Linked DNA regions of Homo sapiens. The protein of the gene in region 2 interacts with the protein of the main gene of each other region in a biochemical or structural test. Each region holds a gene or a part of one and is shown on either strand. Other genes may lie near its edges. The genes, in order: F2 and SERPING1.

The links.
Region 1: the proteins of SERPING1 (region 2) and F2 form a complex in vitro, tested with the Homo sapiens proteins (one study listed by BioGRID).

The regions. Positions count from the first base shown.
Region 1 is NC_000011.10:46,728,850-46,739,025, reverse strand, and holds part of F2 (prothrombin preproprotein), read right to left. Parts: intron 9,647-10,176; coding exon 9,465-9,646; intron 1-9,464. UniProt on the Homo sapiens protein: Thrombin, which cleaves bonds after Arg and Lys, converts fibrinogen to fibrin and activates factors V, VII, VIII, XIII, and, in complex with thrombomodulin, protein C. Functions in blood homeostasis, inflammation and wound healing.
Region 2 is NC_000011.10:57,590,360-57,601,575, reverse strand, and holds the start of SERPING1 (plasma protease C1 inhibitor precursor), read right to left. Parts: upstream 3,892-11,216; 5' UTR 3,854-3,891; intron 3,366-3,853; exon of another isoform or gene 3,328-3,365; 5' UTR 3,306-3,327; coding exon 3,255-3,305; intron 1,698-3,254; coding exon 1,199-1,697; intron 1-1,198. UniProt on the Homo sapiens protein: Serine protease inhibitor, which acrs as a regulator of the classical complement pathway. Forms a proteolytically inactive stoichiometric complex with the C1r or C1s proteases. May also regulate blood coagulation, fibrinolysis and the generation of kinins.

The DNA.
Region 1 (10,176 bases), about 11 Mb from region 2:
TGCTCAGGAGCATAGCTCATAGCCCAGCCACGCCCCTTCACGAGACACAGCTGGTGAGAGTCCACTTACCCCTCCAGTCATTCTTGCTGTCCCCACTTCCTCACCCTACCCATCCAATCCTAGCAAATCTTGTCGGCTCTACCTTCAGCATAGACCCCAAATCCAAACCCTTCTCACCACTTCTAGCTCGAGCTCCTGAACCCACTAGTTTCCTTCATTCTTTGCCCACCTACAGTCTATTCTCCACCCAACAGGCAGAATAATGCTTTTAAAAAGTTGGACCAGACCAGGGGAGGTGGCTCATGCCCAAGCCGGGTGGATCACTTGAGCTCAGCAGTTCAAGACCAGCCTGGGCAATATGGCAAAACCCTCTCTCTACAAAAAATTAGCTGGGCATGGTGGCACATGCCTGGAGTCCCAGCTACTCGGGAGGCTAAGAGAGGAGGATCACTTGCGCCTGGGAGGTTAAGGCTGCAGTGAGCCGTGATCATGTCACCACACTCCAGCCTGGGCAACAGAGTGAGACCCTGTCTCGAAAAAATTAATTAATGATAAAAGACCAAGAAAAAAATTTAAATTAAAAATTAAAAAATTAAAAAGTTAGACCTACAAGTCTGATGAGGATAATAATGATAGTTGCTTTTATCCAAATCTCCCCACGTATCCTCTACAAACAATACAGAACAACACTAACAACAGTAAAACCTACACAAAAAAACCACACCTTCACTAGGTGCTGTGGCTCACACCTGTAATCTCAGCACTTTGGGAGGCCAAGGCGGGCGGATCATGAAGTCAGGAGTTTAAGACCAGCCTGGCCAACGTGGTGAAACCCTGTCTCTACTAAAAATACAAAAATTAGCCAGACATGTTGGTGTGCGCCTATAATCCCAGCTACTCAGGAGACTGAGGTAGAATTGCTTGAACCTGGGAGGTGGAGGTGGAGGTTGCAGTGAGCCGGGATTGCACCACTGCACTACCGCCTGAGCGACAGAACAAGACTCTGTCTCGAAAAAAAAAAATTAGCCGGACATGGTGGCATGTACCTCTGATCCTAGCTACGTGGGAGGCTGAAGCAAGAAGAGGATTGCTTGAGCCCAGGAGTTCAAGGCTGCAGTGAGCTATGACTGTGCCACTGCACTCCAGCCTGGGCAACAGAGCAAGACCCTATCTGAAAAAAAAAAAAGCTAGCAAGAGAACAGCAAAGTAAACCAGACAAAAACGTAAGCAAACTTTTTAAGAGAAAAAAGCAGAAATTAATGAACCACAATAGAAAAATAATAGGCCTGGCCGGGCGCAGTGGCTCACGCCCGTAATACCAGCACTTTGGGAGGCTGAGGCAGGCGGATCACAAGGTCAGGAGATCGAGACCATCCTGGCGAACGCGGTGAAACCCTGTCTCTACTAAATACAAAAAATTAGCTGGGCGTGGCAGTGTACACCTGTAGTCCCAGCTACTCGGGAGGCTGAGGCAGGAGGATGGCGTGAACCCGGGAGGTGGAGCTTTCAGTGAGCCGAGATCGCACCACTGCACTCCAGCCTGGGTGACAGAGCAAGACTCTGTCTCAAAAAAAAAAAAAAAAAGGCCAGGCACGGTGGCTCACACCTGTAATCCCAGCACTTTGGGAGGCTGAGGCAGTCGGATCATGAGGTCAGGAGTTCGAGACCAGCCTGGCTAACATGGTGAAACCCCGTCTCTACTAAAAATATAAAAAAATTAGCCGGGCATGGTGGCGTGCACCTGTAACCCCAGCTACTGGGGAGGCTGAGGCAGGAGAATCACTTGAACCCAGGAGGTGGAGGTTGCAGTGAGCTGAGATCACGCCACTGCACTCCAGCCTGGGCGACAGAGTGAGACTCCATCTCAAAAAAAAGAAAAATAATAGGCCTAATAATTTCATAAATCAAATCCCTAGATATTTGTTTTGAGAAAACCGGCAAGCCATTAACTAATTTACTCAAGAAAAATAAGATATTACAAATACATAAAATAAGATACCAATAGAAAAAATTATAAGAGAATACATTGCAGCAGTCAAGAAAGATACAATAATAGACTTGAGCAAATAGGAAAACGTTTCTTATCCTTGGATAAAATGACTCAACATCAAAAATATGTCCATTCTCCCAGTTAATTTGTTGAAGTGTCATAATCCCAATAAAATTACCACCAAGCTTTTTTATAGACCTAGGCATGTTGACACTAAAGTTCATATGGAAAAACAAACATGCAAGAATTGCCAGGAAACCACTGGAAAGAAAAACTAAAAGAGAACATTAGCCTTCCCAGCTATGTACGCTAAAGCCTCTATCATTAAAACAATGTGACGCTGTACACAGACAGACAACAGACCAGGAAAGCCGAGTCGAACATCCAGAAACATACTCATCCTTAAGCATACTCTATCCATAGAAATCTAGAACGTGGGGCTGGGCACCGTGGCTCATGCTGGTAATCCCAACACTTTGGGAGGCCAAGGCAGGAGGATCACTTGAGCCCAGGAGTTCGAGACCAGCCTAGGTAACATAGCAAGACCCCGTCTCTACAAATCAAATCAAATTAGCTGGATGCAGGAAAAAATAAAACTAAAAAATAAAACCTAGGTCAGGTATGGTGGCTCACGTCTGTAATCCCAGCAGTTTGGGAGGCCAAGGCGGGAGACTTGCTCGAGCCCAGCCAGGAGTTTGAAATCAGCCTGGGCAGCACAGGGAGACTTGTCTATATTTCAAATAAATAAATGAAAATAAGATACAATCTAGAATGTGATAAAGGTGAAATCTCAAATCACTAGTTCAAAGATTGATTGATTGATTGATTGATTTTGAGATAGAGTCTCGCTCTGTTGCCAGGCTGGAGTGCAGTGGCACCATCTCGGCTCACTGCAACCTCCTCCTCCCAGGTTCAAGTGATTCCCCTGCCTCAGCCTCCCAAGTAGCTGGGATTACAGGCGCACACCACCATGCCAGGCTAATTTTTTGTATTTTAGTAGAGATGGGGTTTCACCATGTCGGCCAGGCTTGTCTCAAACTCCTGACCTTGTGATCCACCCACCTCGGCCTCCCAAAGTGCTGGGATTACAGGTGTGAGCCACCGCACCTGGCGAAACGGAGTTTTTACTCTTGTTGCCCAGGCTGGAGTGCAATGGAGGGATCTCAGCTCACTGCAACCTCCGTCTCCCAGGTTCAAGCGATTCTCCTGCCTCAGCCTCCCGAGTAGCTGGGATTACAGACATGTGCCTCCATGTCTGGCTAATTTTGTATTTTTAGCAGAGACAGGGTTTTTCCATGTTGGTCAGGCTGGTCTTGAACTCCTGACCTCAGGTGATCCGCTCGCCTCGGCCTCCCAAAGTGCTAGGATTACAGGCGTGAGCCACCGCGCCCAGCCGATTTTTTTTTTTTAATAGAAACAGGGTCTCACTCTGTTGCCCAGGCTGGAGTGCAATGGTGCGGTCATAGCTCACTGCAGTATTGAACTCCTAGGCTCAAGCAATCCTCCTAACTCAGCCTCTCAAGTAGCTGAGACTACAAGGCACATGCCACCATGCCCAGCTAATTTTTAAAATATTTTCTTTTTCCTTTTTTTTTTGAGATGGAGTCTTGCTCTGTCGCCAGGCTGGAGTTCAATGGCGTGATCTCAGCTCACTGCAACCTCCACCTCCTGGGTTCAAATGATTCCCCTGCCTCAGCCTCCTGAGTAGCTGGTACTACAGGCATGCGCCACCACACCCAGCTAATTTTTTGTATTTTAGTAGAGACGAGGGTTTCACCATGTTGGCCAGGATGGTCTCTATCTCCTGACCTCATGATCCACCTGCCTCAGCCTCCCAAAGTGCTGGGATTATAGGCGTGAGCCACCACACCTGACCAATATTTTCTTGTAGAGACAGGGTCTTGCTATGTTGTCTGGGCTGGTTTTGAATTCCTGGCCTCAAGCAATCCTGCCTCAGCCTTCCAAACTGCTGGGATTACAGGTGTGAGCTACCGCACTTGGCCAATAATTTTTAATAAAGGGTTTAGAGACAGCTAGTTAGCCATTTGGAAAATAATAAATTAGATCTATGCCTCACATCAGATACAAAAATAAACTCCATATGAGTCAGGAATCTAAGTGCAGAAAAATGAAATCAGGTACTAGAAGAAAACATGAGTGAATTCCTCAATGACCTAGCTATCAGGAAAGGCTTTTCTGTTGTTGTTTTTTGTCGTTTTGTTTTTGAGACAGAGTCTTGCTCTGTCACCCAGGCTGGAGTGCAGCGGCACGATCTCTGCTCACTGCAACCTCCGCCTCCCAGGTTCAAGCAATTCTCCAGCCTCAGTCTCCTGAGTAGCTGGGACTACAGGCATCAGCCACCACGCCCAGCTAATTTTTGTATTTTTAGTAGAGACAGGGTTTCACCATGTTGGCCAGGCTGGTCTTGAACTTCTGACCTCAGGTGATCCCCCACCTCAGCCTCTCAGAGTGCTGGGATTACAGGTGTAAGACACCACACCTGGCCAGGAAAAGTTTATCTCTGATTCAAAATCCAGATTTAATAAAATAAATGATTGATAAATTTGACTACCTAGTAATTTTTTAAACTGCATGGCCAGAAAAATTATACATGAGGTTAAAAAAACTGACAAACTAGGAGAAAACATTTGCAATGTATATCACAAATAAAGGCCTAATATAAATACGAAGAACTCACAAAAATTGATAAGAAAGGGACCAAAAAATGGGCAAAAAACCATGAAGAGACAATTCACAAAAAAATTATATAATACAAATACTAGCCAGGCACGCACCTGTGGAACCAGCTACTCGGGAGGCTGAGGCAGGAGAATCACTTGAACCAGGGAAGTGGAGGCTGCAGTGAGCCAAGATTGCACCATTGCACTCCAGCCTGGGTGACAAAGCAAGACTCTGTCTCAAAAAAAAAATTATATAAAAATGGTCCTTAGGCCAGGCGTGGTGGCTCATGCCTGTAATCTCAGCACTTTGGGAGGCCGAGGCGGGAGGATCACAAGGTAAGGAGTTCGAGACCAGCCTGGCCAATCTGGTAAAACCCTGTCTCTACTAAAAATACAAAAATTAGCGGGCATGGTGACTCGCGCCTGGAGTCCCAGCTGCTTGGGAGGCTGAAGCAGGAGAATCGCTTGAACCCAGAAGGCGGAAGTTGCAGTGAGCCAAAATCGTGCCATTGCACTCCAGCCTAGGTGACAGAGGGAGACTCCATCTCAAAAAAAAAAAAAAAAAAAAAAAAGGTCCTTAATCATATGATACGATGTTCAACCTCATTTTCAATTTGAAAGATGTCCGTTAAAACAATTTCAAGATACTATTTCTCACCTCTCAGATTGGTAAAAATTTAAAACTGTGACATTCTTTTGGCAAGGTTGTGGGGAAACAGGCATTCTCATACACTGTGATGGAAATGCAAACTGGTACAACCCTTATGGAAAGAAATTTAAAAATCTCTAAAAAATGACATACATGTTTGCCTTTTGACCTAACAACACCACTTCTAAAAATTTACTAGGAGAGGCCAGGCATGGTGGCTCACACCTGTAATCCTAGCACTTTGGGAGGCTGAGTTGGATGGATCACTTGAGCTCAGAGTTCAAGACCTGTCTGGGCAACACAGTGAGACCCAGTCTCTACAAAAAATACAAAAATTAGCTGGGCATGGTGGTGTGTGCCTGTAGCCCTGGCTACTCGGGAGGCTAAAGTGGGAGGCTGGCTTGAGTCCAGGAGGCAGAGGTTGCAGTGGGCTGAGCCCAGCCATAGGATTGGTTTTAATAGTGTTATGGATGGAGGATTTTGAAACTATATTCTAGTATTGTTCAAATAGGCAAATGCATTACAGATAATGAGGGTCAGGTTTCTCACTGTCAACAGAGAGAGTTACAAATATGGAAAAGGAAAAGCTAAAATTAATCCTGTGGTGTTAGAATGGAATTGGAGGTTTCAGTAGGAACTCATGGTTTTTTATATAGATGATAGAGATATTGGTATATGCATCATATAATTTTTTTCTGGTTCTGTCCACTAAGAGAGCCTAGAAGTAATGACATCCCACTAGCAATGTGCACACGCCAGCACCCAGATCTCAGTTCTAAATTCCACTCTTGACTACAAGGGTTCCCTGGAGAAATGGCTGGTTCCAACACTACAGTAAGGAAAGTAGGATTAACCTGAATCATTTTGCTGTGCCAGAAAGAAAGAAAGTACTCAAAGAATGACAGAACATCTCCCCAAGTCACAGAAGCCAGCTTGAAGGGACTTCCACAGGCCAAACTTGGGATCATCTGAGCATCAGAAAAAATAACAGTAGTAACAAAGTATGGCCTGGCACGGTAGAGCTCACGCCTATAATCCCAGAACCTTGGAAGGCTGAGGCGGGCGGATCACCTGAGGTCAGGAGTTCGAGACCAGCCTGGCCAACATGGTGAAACCCTGTCTCTACTAAAAATACAAAAAATTAGCCAGGCGTGGTGGCACATGCCTGTAATCCCAGCTACTCAGGAGGCTGAGGCAGGAGAATTGCTTGAACCTGGGAGGAGGACGTTGCAGTGAGCCGAGATCACGCCATTGCACTCCATCCAGCCTGGGCAACATGGGCGAAACTCCATCTCAAAAAAAAAGAAAAAAAAAGGTGAACCCTTAGAATAAAGTAAGGATCCTTAAGTCCACACTGATAGAATGAAAGGAAGGAAAGCAATAAAGTAACTAACAAATGTAGAAGGAATGACAGAATTAGATAAGTGCCATTTGGTAGTCACCCTAGTTGGGAGAAGGTTTTGATGCAAACAGAATACAAAATATCAAAGTAGGCCAGGCGTATTGGCTCACACCTGTAATCCCAGCACTTTGGGAGGCTGAGGCAGACGGATCACAAGGTCAGGAGTTCGAGACCATCCTGGCCAACATGGTGAAACCCCATCTCTACTAAAAATACAAAAATTAGCTGGGTGTGGTGGCACATGCCTGTAATCCCTGCTACTTGGGAGGCTGAGGCAGGAGAATCACTTGAACCTGGGGGATGGAGGTTGCAGTGAGCCGAGATCGCACCACACACTCCAGCCCGGGTGATAGAGGGAGACTCCATCACAAAAAAAAAAAAAAAAAAAAAACATCAAAGTGTCTCTTTACCAGATTCTTATTAATTACAAAGGGAAAAACAGAAGTTACAGCAAGAAACTTGGCAGACATTGCCTTCCTCAAGAGGTCAGAGTTAGACTCACCACATATGAGACAAATTGTTCTCATGTGCCAGTTAACAGGATGCACCAAGAAGGACATGGCACCACTGAGCCCGAACCTGACCGTGAGGAAACCTTAGACAAACCCGGATTCAGGGCCAGTGTACAAAATAACCAGACTGCACTCATCAGACATGTCAAGGTCATAGAAGACAAAGAAAGATCCTTCATTGAATCCTGGGTGAGAAACACGCTTTTTTTTTTTTTTTTCCCTATAAAAGACATTAGCAAGACTAACAAAAATTTGAATAAGGTCTATAGATTAGACAATAATATTGTATCATCATTAATTTCCTGGTTTTGGGCCAGGTGCTGTGGCTCACGCCTGTAATCCCAGCACTTTGGGAAGCCGAGGTGGGTGGATTACCCGAGGTCAGGAGTTCAAGACCAGCCTGGCCAACATGGTGAAACCCCATCACTACTAAAAATACTAAAAATACAAAAAGTTAGCCGGGCGTGGTGGCAGGCACCTGTAATTCCAAGTAAGCCGAGACCATGCCACTGCACTCTAGCCTGGGCAACAGAGCAAGATTCCATCTCAAAAAAAAAAAAAAATTTCCTGGTTTTGGCCGAGTACAGTGGTTCACGCCTGTAATCCCAGCACTTTGGGAGGCCGAGGCAGGTGGATCACCTGAGGTCAGGAGTTCAAGACCAGCCTGGCCAACATGGTGAAACCCTGTCTCTACTACAAATACAAAAATTAGCTAGGCATGGTAGTACATGCCTGTGATTCCAGCTACTCAGGAGGCTGAGGCAGGAGAATCACTTGAACCTGGGAGCAGGAGGTTGCAGTGAGCCGAGATTGTGCCACTGCACTCAAGCCTGGGTGACAGCGAAGCTATGTCAAAAAAAAATTTCCGGGTTTTAATATTTGTATTGTGGTTGCATAAGAGAACATCCTTGGGTATTTTTTTTTTTTTTGGAAATACTCAAGTATTTATGGGTAAAAAGAAACCATATTCATGATTTGCTCTCAAACTATGCATATATATATATAAAAATTCCCACACATCCACAGAATGGAGGACAATCTGGATGACAGTATACAGGAAATCTTTGTATTATTTTTACAACTTTTCTGTGAGTCTGAAATTACACTAAATTTTTTTATTTTTTACTTTTAAAGTCAGTCACATCATTTCTTAACCTGCCTCAAGCCCCTCAATAACTTCCCATCTCACTCAATAAAGTCCTTCCAGGCCCTAAAGGAAGTGGCTGTCCTCTGCCTGCCCCCCTCTCTCCCCTCACCCACTGCTGCCCCTCCTCAGCCCCCCAGGCCTCCCTACTGCTCCCCAGACAAGCCAAGAGTGCTCCCACCTCAGGGCCTTAGTGCCTGCCATGCCCCCAGCCTGCGGTGCTCCTCCCCTAGATATGCCTGCTCACTCCTTCCTTCCCCTCTTCCAGTCCCTGCCCAGACATCACCTTCTCAGGGAGGCCTTCTCCAACCTTCTCTGGCCACCTGATTGATTGATTGATCGATCGATCAATGGAGTCTTGCTGTGTTGCCCAGCTGGAGTGCAATGATGCCCGATCTCAGCTCACTGCAACCTCCGCCTCCCTGGCTCAAGCAATTCTCCTGCCTCAGCCTCCTGAGTAGCTGCGACTACAGGCATGCGTCACCATGACCAGCTAATTTTTGTATTTTTAGTAGAGACGGGGTTTCACCATGTTGGCCAGGCTGGTCTTGAACTCCTGACCTCAAGTGATCTGCCCACCTTGTCTGGCCACCCTATTTAGAAGCCCACTTCATCAGCCGTTCTCTCTCCCTGTGCTTCATTTTTCTTCACAGCACTGGTCAGGGATTGCTGTTTTAGATCTGTTTATGGATGTGCCCTCCTAGGAAGGAAGCTCTCTGAGGGCACAGACATTGTCCGTCTGGGTCCCTGCTGTATACCCTAGAACGCTGCCTGGAACGTGATAGGCGCTCAATAAATATTTGCTGAGTGACTGAATGAATGGCATTTCCCTACCCGCAGCCTCTTGCTGCTATCTGAGCTCACTGGTGACTGATACTATGCCAAGTACATTAATATATACTACTTCATTTAACCCTCCCATAACCTTATGGGATAGAGACTTTTACCTCCATTTTACAGAGGAAGAAACTGAGCCACCAAGAGGTTAGGCAACTTGCTCAAAGTCACATGGCTTGAACCCAGGCACAACTCAGTTCTCCCAGCTTGGGCCCCACTGTTCCCTCAGCCCGCCCTGCACAGACTTGCCAGCACAGAACATGTTGTCAGTGATGCGGATCCGGGTGGAGTCCTTGCAGACCGGCCGCTCCACAATGGGCAGGTTCACCACCTGCAGGACACTGGGCTGCCCCTTACCAACGTTGGCTGTCCACGTCTCCTTCAGGTTGCCCCAGCCTGTCACCCGCCCCTTGTATCCAGCCTGGAGCAAGCTTTGGGGAAGGAAGAAGGGCCTAGTGAGAGCCAACCCCCACAGGAGCCGCCTGGCCCCAACGCCATTTCTTAGAGACCAGAATCTAAAACGCCAGAGCTGGCTGGGCACAGACGTTCACGCCTGTGGTCTCGGCACTTTGGGAGGCCGAGGCGGGTGAATCACTTGAGGTCAGGGGTTCGAGACCAACCTGGCCGACACGGTGAAACCCACCAGTCTCTACTAAAAATACAAAAATTAGCCTGTAATCCCAGCTACTCAGGAGACTGAGGCAGGAGAGTCGCTTGAACCCAGGAGGTGGGGTTGCAGTGAGCCAAGATCGCACAACTACACTCCAGCCTGGGAGACAAGAGTGGAACTCCGTCAGTAAATAAATAAATATAAATAAAAAATAAAACGCCAGTACTGAAAAGAACTTTTGGGTTCACTCCAAGAAACCGAGGCCTGGAAAAGGGAAAGGGGCTCTTGCAAGGCTACTTGGTATCAGAGCCAGGCCCAGAACTTGGCTTCTGCCCCTCAGCTAACAAGCAT
Region 2 (11,216 bases):
GAATTCTCTCTGGGGAGTAATAGCTCTGTCCCCACTGCTTGTAGTAATTTGTTTGTGCCATTCCTAGGGTAATTACCAAATGGGACTTGACAGTAATCCCTCAAGATGGCAGAGGATTTACATTTTTTTGACCTCCCACTAAGTCAGACACTAGGCTGCTTCTTTTTTTTTTTTGAGACAGAGTCTTGCTCAGTCTTCCCAGGCTGGAGTGCAGTGGCATGATTTCGGCTCACTGCAACCTCTGCCTCCCGTGTTCAAGTGATTCTCCTGCCTCAGCCTCCTGAGTAGCTGGGGTTACAGGTGTGCACCACCATGCCTAGCTAATTTCTTTTTATTTTTAGTAGAGACGGGGTTTCACCATGTTAGTCAGGCTGGTCTCGAACTCCTGACCTCGTGATCTGCCCGCCTCGGCCTCCTAAAATGCTGGGATTACAGGTGTGAACCACCGCATCCGGCCTGGCTTTCTGCTTCTTAATCTTTTGAGGTAGATAGCATCATCACTATTTTACACAAGAGGACTCAAGGCTCAGAGAGGTTAAAGTGATCTGCCCAAGGTCACAGAGCTAGAAGGCAGTACTAACCACATCTACTCTAGGTCTATCTCTGATAATTTTTTTTTTTTTTTGAGACAGAGTCTCGCTCTGTCACCCAGACTGTAGTGCAATGGTGCGGTCTCGGCTCACTGCAACCTCCACCTCCTGGGTTCAAGCGATTCTCCTGCCTCAGCTGCCCAAGTAGCTGGGATTACAGGCATGCACCACCACTCCCTGATAATTTTTGTATTTTTAGTAGAGACAGGGTTTCACCATGTTGGCCAGGCTGGTCTTGAACTCCTGACCTCAGGTGATCCACCCGCCTTGGCCTCCCAAAGTGCTGGGATTACAGGCGTGAGCCACTGCGCCTAATTTCATCTTTCTTATCACCTCTCCTTGCCATGAAACATGGTTAGTGGCTGCGACCTTATTTTATATGTTCTTGTATAGTCACAGAGTTTTACAAGCAATCGTGCCTATTACATCACTGTGAAATGATGGAATGTTCAAGAATGAAAAGATACATCCCTCTACCCCACCCCCAATATATAATAGCCCATTTTTACAGCTTCTTCCCAGAGGCATGGCTTTGTAAGTGTCTGGATTGGTGACTCTTATGGGAGTGTCCAACAAATGACCTGGAGAGAATTCAAGCAGGGTCTTACCGAGCAGGACCTGGGTAAGGAGGCTGGCGATGCTGAATGGGGAAAAGGCCATGTTGGTCTCCACCTTCTTCATTGCTGAGAAGGCGTGGTAGAGCTTCAGGGAGAAATCTACCAAAGCATCCCCCAACACGGCCTCTGTTGAATGACTCTCCAAGTCAGAGCAGAGAGTAACAGGTCCTGGGCAGAAGGACCCAGTAGTGGGCTGGGTAGGAGAATCTGTTGGGAGCTGGGTAGTTGGTTGGGTGGGTTGGATGGTGGGTTGGGTGGTGGGCTCTGTGGTGGGTTGTGTGGTGGGTTCATCAGTGGTATTAGCTGTTATTTTGGTGGCTGAATTGGTTGTTGAGTTGGTTGTCGGCAAGCTGGAAACCTCCAGGATGGGTTCAACGAATAGCATCTTGGAGATAACTGTTGTTGCGACCTTCCCTTCGCCTCTGTCTTGCAAACTCTCTGGATCCTGGGAGCTGGAGCTGGTAGCATTTGGATTTGAGGAGGCTCTATCCTGTGGTTCAAGAAACTGAGTTTCATTTTTTTCTTACTACGAGGCACAGTCCTCTAAAATACTCAAAGCAGGAAGAGAAGGTGTGGATGTGGAAAATGTCCTGTACAAGAGAGTAATTTCTGACAGTGCGGCAGATGAGCAATCTGTCTTAGAACCACCACCACTAATTCCTCAGAGAAGGGGCAATACAGGGTGAGGGTGGGGGTGCACAGGAATGTGCTCTGCAGAAGATGAGGGATAGTCAGGGACTCTGTAATCTCTGACCAATTACTGCCCTGTAGGAAGTTGTTTTCCAAACAGTGAAGCTGAGTGTTGTCATTTATCTATGTTCTTGCAATTTCCTGTAAATATCTACCTGTTTGACTCACTTGCTTGGCTAGTACAGACATTTGAACTTGTGCTCCTTGATTTAGAACAGTAAATTTTTAAACTGTGGGTTGCAACCCATTAGTGGGTGTGGAAAAACAGTACACATTAGGAAGGGAACGAAGAAAGGGAAGGAGGAAAGAAGGGAGGCAGGAAGGGAGGGAGAGAGAAGTAGTATAGGCCAGCGGCTCTGAAACAATTTTGACTCCCAGGGGATATTTGGCAATGTCCAGAGACATTTTTGGTTGTCACAGGGAGACAGCAGGGAAGATGCTACCGGAATCTAGTGCGTAGAGGCTAGAGATATACTGCAAAACATCCTAAAATGCGCAGGGTAGCCCCTCAGCAATGAATTATCCAGCCCCAATGTCAACAGATCCTCCACTGAGAAACCACGCATTAGCTCCATTTCACAGGTAGAGAAACTCATACCGACACATATTAACTAGTCCAGGGTCTCACAGAAATGGGAGAAACAGCTAGGGGTCAAAACAAGGTCTCTGATTCCAAACTCCCTGCTCATAACTACATCATCTGCTGAGTATGTGATACCAACTTGCGCGTGCACACACACACACACGCACATACACACACCCCTACCTACCTTTCTCCTGGGATCCTGCACTTCTTAGCCTTATTTCTAGTCCATGACCTCCCAGACCACTGGGACCTCTCACTGCTATTGACCCCCACCCAGACCCACGTATGTTTGCTACCATTCTTCCCTGTCTTCACAGGCCCTAGCCTGGGACCACCGTCTGTGTCACAGCAGCCAAACCTCTCCTCCCCACAGCTCTTTTCTACAACAAACTCTTGCTTTGATATCACAAAATGCTTCCCATCTCCTTGCCCTATGTGATCCTCCTGCCAAGCCTGCTTGGTGGACAGGGTGGGATCTGTTTATTCAACATTTTATAAATCAGGAGGAGTAGGCTGAGAAAAGTGACGTCCTCAGGACCACGCTGCGCAGCTCCTACATGGCCCGCCAAGATTAGAACTTGCATCTGTCTGAGTCCTGAGCTCTTTCCACCATCTACGAGTGCGTGTGCAAGGATCACACTCAATGATCCCAAGAGGAGCTCTCCTCATTCCCCGGAGCCTGAAGGGTTAATCCTCAGCCACCGCCCGCACCCCGCACCATCCCGCCTCCCGTCTCCACCCCCGTCCCCCATCCCACAAGGGACCACATACCCCAGCCAGCAGCAGCAGCAGGAGGGTCAGCAGGGTCAGCCTGGAGGCCATCTGGGCGGCGACGTCAGCGGACCTGCGGAGCCAGCCAGCCTCGGAGCCAGCTCCCACCCTGGGAGCCCAGGGGCCCCCACCCCGCCCGGGGCCCGCCCCCATTCCGTCTCAGGCCCCAGTCCCTCTTAGCGAATTCCCTCCTCCTCCCTCCTGGGGCCACCTTCTCCCTGGCTCCTCCCTCTGTTTTGTTTTCCCCAAACCGCTTCCCTTTCCCGGCACCGGCTGGCCCTTCCTCTCCCCGTGGGCCCGGGTCTCTGTCCATCTGTTCAGTCGGAGGGGAGGTGGTGGGAGGGGGAGGGGGTCCTGCTTTAACCAAACAATGAGGCCAGAGGCGTGGGGGAGGGGAGGTCCTGGGGGGCTGAGCACAACAGGCCTGAGGCGGGAGGGGCTGGGGTAGGAGGAGGCAGAAGTCCCAGGTGGAAGCAAGCCTATAGAGACCCCCGAGATCAAGGCGGGCAGGAAGGCGGGGGTGAGGAGACCCCCTCCCTAGACCTCTTCACTCCATGCTTTCCACCCTACTCCCCACCCCTGCCCAGCACCAAACCTACTCCAAACTTCTGGTCACCAGGCAGCTCCAGTGCAGACTGAGTAGAGAGTCCCCCAGGGTCAGGGAGGGTGGGGTGCGGGGGGGGCAGTCTTAGCTATTGGCTGGCCCGGGACACTGCCCAGTTACAAATTAAGGAAGATTGATCGCTGGTGTGAGTTCCTGTAAATCAGGATGGGACGGAATGGGACTGACCGCTTGGTCTTCTTTGTGGGCCAGGCCAGGAATTTAGCCCAAATCCCCTGGTAGGTGGGGTGAACGGGGAAGCTTGGGTGCAGTTCTCAGCTTTACACAACCAAAGCTTCCCCCGCGTCTTCATGAGTAACAATAAAAACAGCATGTACACAAAATGTGCTCCGCAGTTTTTAAAGGAATGAACTTTTTGGAAATTGCTCACCTCCGTTATTCCTCAAAGTAACCCTTTGTGCCCCATTGTACCCATTTGATAGTTAAGATACTGAGCCTTAGAGCAGTGAAATGTCGGGCCCTGATCACCCTCATTTGGAGAAGTATTCTGAAGCCTAATCCCTGCTCCCATCTCCCCTGTGCCCTGTAGGTGTTCTGCCATTTTTGCTCGTAGAGACCCATAATCAGTAGTTCTTTGTATAACAGACAACGGATGTGAGGCACCCAGCTCAACAAGCATTCAACCTAATTAAAAAAAAAAAAAAAAAAAAAGCTAGCCGGGCACGGTGGCTCACGCCTGTAATCCCAGCACTTTGGGAGGCCGAGGTGGGTGGATCACTTGAGGTCAGGAGTTTGAGACCACTCTGGCCAATATGGGGAAACCCCGTTTCCGCTAAAAGTACAAAAATTAGCTGGGCAGTGCAGGCGCGCACATGTAGTCCCAGCTACTAGGGAGGCTGAGGCACAATCACTTGAATCTGGGAGGCAGAGGTTGCAGTGAGCTGAAATTGCACCACTGCACTCCAGCCTGGGTGACAGAGCAAGACTGTCTCAAAAAACAAATAACTAACTAAATAAATATTTAAAAACTTGAAAGCTGGGGTGTATGTGTTTGCGACTAGGGCTCCACAATAGACCTGGCTGGCTGTGTGAGCCAGCAAGTTGCTTTCCCCCTTGACGTCTGGCTGTCCTCGAAATCTGGCTGTCCTCGACATCTAGCTGTCCTCTCAGCATTGCCAGATAAAACACACGAAGTAGGCAGGCCTGGGGGTTCATACCTGTAATCCCAGCCTTTTAGGAGACTGAGGCAGGAGGATCCCTTGAGCCCAGGAGTTCAAGGCTGCAGTTAGCATTGATCATGCCACTGCACTCCAGCCTGGGCAACAGAGTAAGACACTTGCTGTCTCTAAAAAAAAAAAAAAAAACTTACATTGGGATATACTTATGGTAAAAATGCTTACATTGGAATATACTTATGGTAAAATAAATTTTGTTGTCATTGTTGTGTATCTGAAATTCAAATATAATTGGCATTTTGTATTTTTGCTAAATCTGATAACTCTGCCTCATCTGCAAAACAAACAGGTTGTCTCTGATGACCTAATATAGCTATCATGTTCTATCGTCATCTCACTGCAGGCCTATCCTCTGGCTGTGTTTGGAGCATTCAGGAAAGTTTGCTGCTAGCACCAGAACTGCTACTCTAAGGGACTGACCAAGGACAGAAACAGGAGAATATTTGTGTGTCTCCTCGGGGGTCCTTGGACAAGACCCAGAAAGAGTCTTCCCCAGCTTTGTGCTTTATTCTCTGAAGCCACTTGGGAACCTCCTAAACCATGGGAAAGTTATATAACATCAGAGCCATCGTTTGAACAGCTGCACACAAAACAACGTTTCTCCATCCCCAGTGCTCAAGCTGGTGGGCTCAAAGGGACTATGAGCTTGTGGATTCTGGGAAATGGGTCAGCCAAAGGAAAAGAAGGTGGTGGAAAGCAACCTAATTCACTGAGTGCTCACCATGCATTTACATTCATCCTCTCACTAATTCTCATCACCTATGAAGTAGGTGCTATATTAATCCCATCTTAAACAAGTTAAAATGAGGCTCAGAGAAATTAATTGATCTACCTAATATCACAAAGCCAGTAAGTGACAGAGCCAGGATGTGGACCAGGTCTGTTTGACCCAACAGTTCTTTATTAACCCTTACAAATTATTGACACACACCAGGGGCTAACCTGAAGCAGACAGCAAAGGGAATATTCTGGGTACAGCTGCAAGAGTACGATGCTTTGTGGGCCAAAGTTCCAGGGTGAAAAAGCCCCAGTGGAGAGGTTTTCCCAGCTTGTGGGTCTACCTCCTTCAGCCATCTATAATAGCTCTCTGGCCAAAGCCATTCCTGCACTCTGCACATTTAAATGATGTCTGCTTTGTGAAGTCTCCCCTGCCTGCTGAAGCTGGAGCTGAAACTGACTTAATCAGGATGTTTGCGGAATTTCTCCCTAGTGTGGATGTTGAGATATTCAATCAGTGTAAGGTTGTGAATTCAGTTCTCTTCCCACTGGGAGCAGGTCTAGGATTTCTCTGTAACAAGGACCTTTCCTTCTGGTGACTGAGGAGAGTTGAACCCACAGAATCCCTCTTCCCTCATGTTGTAGGTGCACATGGCTTCTCTCGCCTGTGAATTTCCTGATGTTGAATGAGGTACAAGTTCTCACTAAAGCTCTTCCTGTACTCAGAGCATTTTTATCAGGTTTTTTCCTAGTTGAGTCCTCTAATACTGAAGGTACAAGTTGCTGTAGCTGAACTCTCTCACATTATAGAGTGTGAAAAACTAAACACCTTTAGTTTTCCTTCTTAAGAGAAATTTTTCGGCTGGGCATGGTGGCTCATGCCTGTAATCCAGCACTTTGGGAGGCTGAGGTGGGCAGATCACTTGAGGTCAGGAGTTCGAGGTCAACCTGGCCAACATAGCAAAACCCCATCTCTACTAAAAATACAAAAATTAGCCAGGCATGCTGGTGCACGACTGTAGTACCAGCTACTTGGGAGGCTGAGGTGGGGGGATTGCTTGAACCCAGGAGGTGGAGGTTGCAGTGGGCCGAGATTGCGCCACTGCACTCCAGCCTGGGCAACAGAGTGAGACTGTCTCAAAAAAAAAGAAAAGAAAAGAAAAAAAGAAAAATTATCCAAAACTTGGAAACAGGGCAAAAGAATTCTGAGAAATCAGGGTCACTCCGTTCTTGGGACACAGAAAATGGTTGGAGGGACTATTTTCTCAACTCTCCCACAGATAGTACACAACTAGCACCACTCTAGTTTCAGAGGAGAGAAGTTGATTGATTATCAACAAATAATGCGCTGGGCAAATTAGGGCTCAGTCCTTTCTTTGGAATCTTGGTTGAGAAATGCTATTCTAGAGGAATAGAATTTTCTCTTTCTTATTTTTCTAGATTAGGGCTCAGAGTCTGTAATGTCAGATGTTGACCTGTCAAAAATGGATAAGATGCAAAGGGTTTTTGTCTGGTAGAGATGTGAATGAGATGATAATGATAACCCCAAAGGTAATGGTCTTGATGCAGGGCAGGTGAGCCCCAAAGTGGGGCTTAGCTGGTAAGCGTTCTTAGCTTTGCCCAGGAAAGAATTCAAGGGCAAGCCGGAGGTAGAAGAAAACAGTTTTTTTGAAGAGGCAGTGTTACAGCTCAGTGACTGCTCCTGCAAAGGAGGGGTACTCTGTAGGCAGAGAGTAGCAGTAGCTCAGGGCAGTTTTGCAGTCATATTTATACCCACTTTCCATTACATGCAGATTAAAAAGCAGTTTAAAGCCGGGCGCGGTGGTTCCTGCCTGTAATCCCAGCACTTTGGGAGGATAAGTTGGGTGAATCACCTGAGATCAGGAGTTTGAGACCAGGCTGGCCAACACAGTGAAGCCCCCTCTCTACTAAAAATACAAAAAATTAGCTGGCGTGCTGGCAGGCTTCTGTAATCCCAGCTATTCGGGAGGCTGAGACAGTAGAATCTCTTGAACCTGGAAGGTGGAGGTTGCAGTGAGCCGAGATCGCACCGTTGCATTCCAGTCTGGGCCACAAGAGCTAATCTCTGTCTCAAAAAACAAAACAAAACAAAACAACAACAACAAAACAAAACAAGAAGCAGTTTATGCAGAAATTTCTAGGGAAGGGAAAAGAACTTTTGGATCATCAGGTCATTGCCATGGAAAGAGGCAGTGACTCCCAGGTGTTTCCATGGCAATGGTAAACTGACATGGCGGACTGGCTGGCAAATCTTATGGAAAACTGCTTCTGCCCTGGCCCTGTTTTAGCTAGTCCTCAATCTGGTTGGTATCTGAGCCCCACCTCGGGAGTTGAGTCCTACCTCCTATTTCAGTCTTGTTGGCCTGCAGGGCAATAGCCAGTTTTGTAGGTAACTTAGCTGTGTTATTCCAGCACACACACACACACACACACACACACACACACACACACACCAGTTTCTCAAATCATTCTTTGAACCAACTTTGTCATCCTGACAGTTATCTTGTGAAGGTTCTCACTGTGTATTTGTGTGAGAATGACAGTTCTACCATTTTGAGAATTATGTTGTGGCACACCCTTTACGTGGGGCTGTTGATGCTTTGTAAGTAAGAACGGACCACAGGCTGAACTTTGTCCCTTATTTCCTACAAATACAGTAGTCCTCTCCGGAGAAGGGCACAGGTTTGGCAGCCATGAGTGAGGGAGCTGTGGGGGTTCCTGCTCCCACTGTATCCCCACCTTCTTCACTGATTCCCTTTCTCACCAGCCCTGACTCATTCACATGGGCTGTTTCCTGCCCAGCTCTCCAGGGACTGGACCTTCCCAGGAACCTCACTAGAGAGTCCTCATGCACAGTACCCTTCCACTAACGACCCTCTTCTCTTCCTCTTCCCTTCAGTCTTTAACTGGTATGAGGAGGTGGATGGGGATCAGAGATGAAGACAGAGATGAGATCCAAATAAGTGTTGAGACACAAAATCCCCAAACCTCAGGCTCACACCCTATTTGCAGATCCTGGCAGGCCGAGGAATACAAAGCTTCTTCGAGTAGAATAGAAACATTTGATGAGTCCTCATAGATATTCTAAATTGGTCCATTCAATCATTTTTCTAAGGATCTTTAAAATTATTCTTTTCCTGGGTGCAGTGGCTCATGCCTGTAATCCCAGCACTTTGGGAGGCTGAGACAGGGGGATTGTTTGAGCCCAGGAGTTTGAGAGCAGCCTGGACAACATGGTAAAACCCCGTTTCCACAAAAAATAAAAAAAATTAGCCAGGCTTGGTGGCTCATGCCTGCAGTCCCAGCTACTCAAGAGGCTGAGGTGGGAGGATTGCTTGAGCCTAGGAGTTCGAGGCTGGAGTGAGCCGTGATCACACCACTGCACTCCAGCCTGGGCGACAGAACAAGACCCTGTCTAAAAAAAAATTAAATGATTCTTTCAAAGTTATTGCTACAAAGTCATATACGTGCTTTGTAAAACTTTTCTGGCTGGGCGTGGTGGCTCACGCCTGTAATCCCAGCACTTTGGGAGACCCAAGTGGATGGATCACCTGAGGTCAGGAGTTCAAGACCAGCCTGGCCAACATGGTGAAACCCCGTCTCTACCAAAAATACAAAAATTAGGTGGACATGGTGGCACATGCCTGTAATCCCAACTACTCGGGAGGCTGAGGCAGGAGAATCGCTTGAACCCAGGAGGTGGAGTTTGCAGTGAGCCGAGATCGTGCCATTGCACTCCAGCCTGGGCAACAAGAGCAAAACTCTGTCTAACAAAACAAAACAAAACAAAACAAAACGTTTCTAACAATTCAGACACTTACAAAATTAAAAGTTACCACAGACAAAACTGCTGTTAATAATTCTGAGTGTATGCTTTTATATTTGCCTATTTATAAAATCATATCTACTTCATCTCTCCCCACACACATAATTATTACTCTTCCATAATTTCTTTTCTTTTTTTTGAGACGGGAGTCTTGCTCTGTCACCCAGGCTGGAGTGCAGTGGCCCTATCTCGGCTCACTGCAAGCGCTGTCTCCAGGGTTCACGCCATTCTCCTGCCTCAGCCTCCCGAGTAGCTGGGACTGCAGTCGCCCGCCACCACTCCCGGCTAATTTCTTTTGTGTTTTTAGTAGAGAGGGGGTTTCACCGTGTTAGCCAGGATGGGTCTCGATCTCCTGACCTCGTGATCCACCCGCCTCGGCCTCCAAAAGTGCTGGGATTACAGGCATGAGCCACTGTGCCTGGCCTAATTTCTTTTCTTAATAAAGTAGCATGGGCATTGTTCCATGTCACTGCAGGCAGCTCTATCTCATTCTTTCTTACAGCCGCACGGTATTCCATTGTATGGATGTATTACAAACTATTTCTTTGATCTCACCCTGAGAGAGACATTTGGATTGATTCCCAAACCAATCCCCTTAACTACATGCCGGTTCCAGAAGTTTCCCTCTCACTTACTATCTTTTCCACTTCTTGCACAGCAGCGTACCTGCTTTCTCTGCTACCTTTCTATTTCTAGCCTTTGTTTCCAATTCTCCGTTGCCAGCTCTGTAGATGGAAGCGCTAGGTTTGGACTGTTGACTCAGCTGTGAATTTGGCTCCATTCAGATTGTGGCCCCTTGCTTTGACCTGCTGTTTCTGCTTCCATGCACCTCTCCTGAGGGTAAAAATGCCTGCTCCACTTCCAGAAAAGCCAAAATTCACCTTGCGTTCCTCAATGCCTGTTGAGAAACAGGGAGCCACCCTCCTTGTTCTGCCCAACTTGAACATGAAGCCCCATGGTCACTTCTCCAGTTACAGACTTTTCTTTTCTTTTCTTTTCTTTTTTTTGGAGACAGAGTCTTGCTCTGTTGCCCAGGCTGGAGTGCAGTGGCATGATCTCGGCTCACTGCAAGCTCCGCCTCCCAGGTTCACGCCATTCTCCTGCCTCAGCCTCACAAGTAGCTGGGACTACAGGTGTCTGCCACCACGCCCAGCTAATTTTTTTTTTTTTTTGTATATTTAGTAGAGATGGGGTTTCACGTGTTAGCAGAGATAGAAACCCTGTCTCTACTAAAAATACAAAATTAGCTGGGTGTGGTGGTGCATGCCTGTAATCCCAGCTACTTGAGAGGCTGAGGCGGGAGAATTACTTGAACCAGGGAGGTAGAGGTTGAGCCTGGGCAACAAGAGCAAAACTCTGTCTCAAAAACAACAACAACAAAAAATTGTGACGGCACCATGTTTAAGTTCTGATATTCAGTAGACCAAGTCCTCACATTTTATTCTTCTTCAAGAAGATCTCTGCTATTCTTGATCCCTGAATTTCCATATATACTTAGAATCAGCTTACCAGGCTCCACAAAATAAAAGGGAAAAATATGTTGGGATTTTGACTGGTATTACCTTACATCTATAGATCATTTTGGGAGTGAATTGACATCT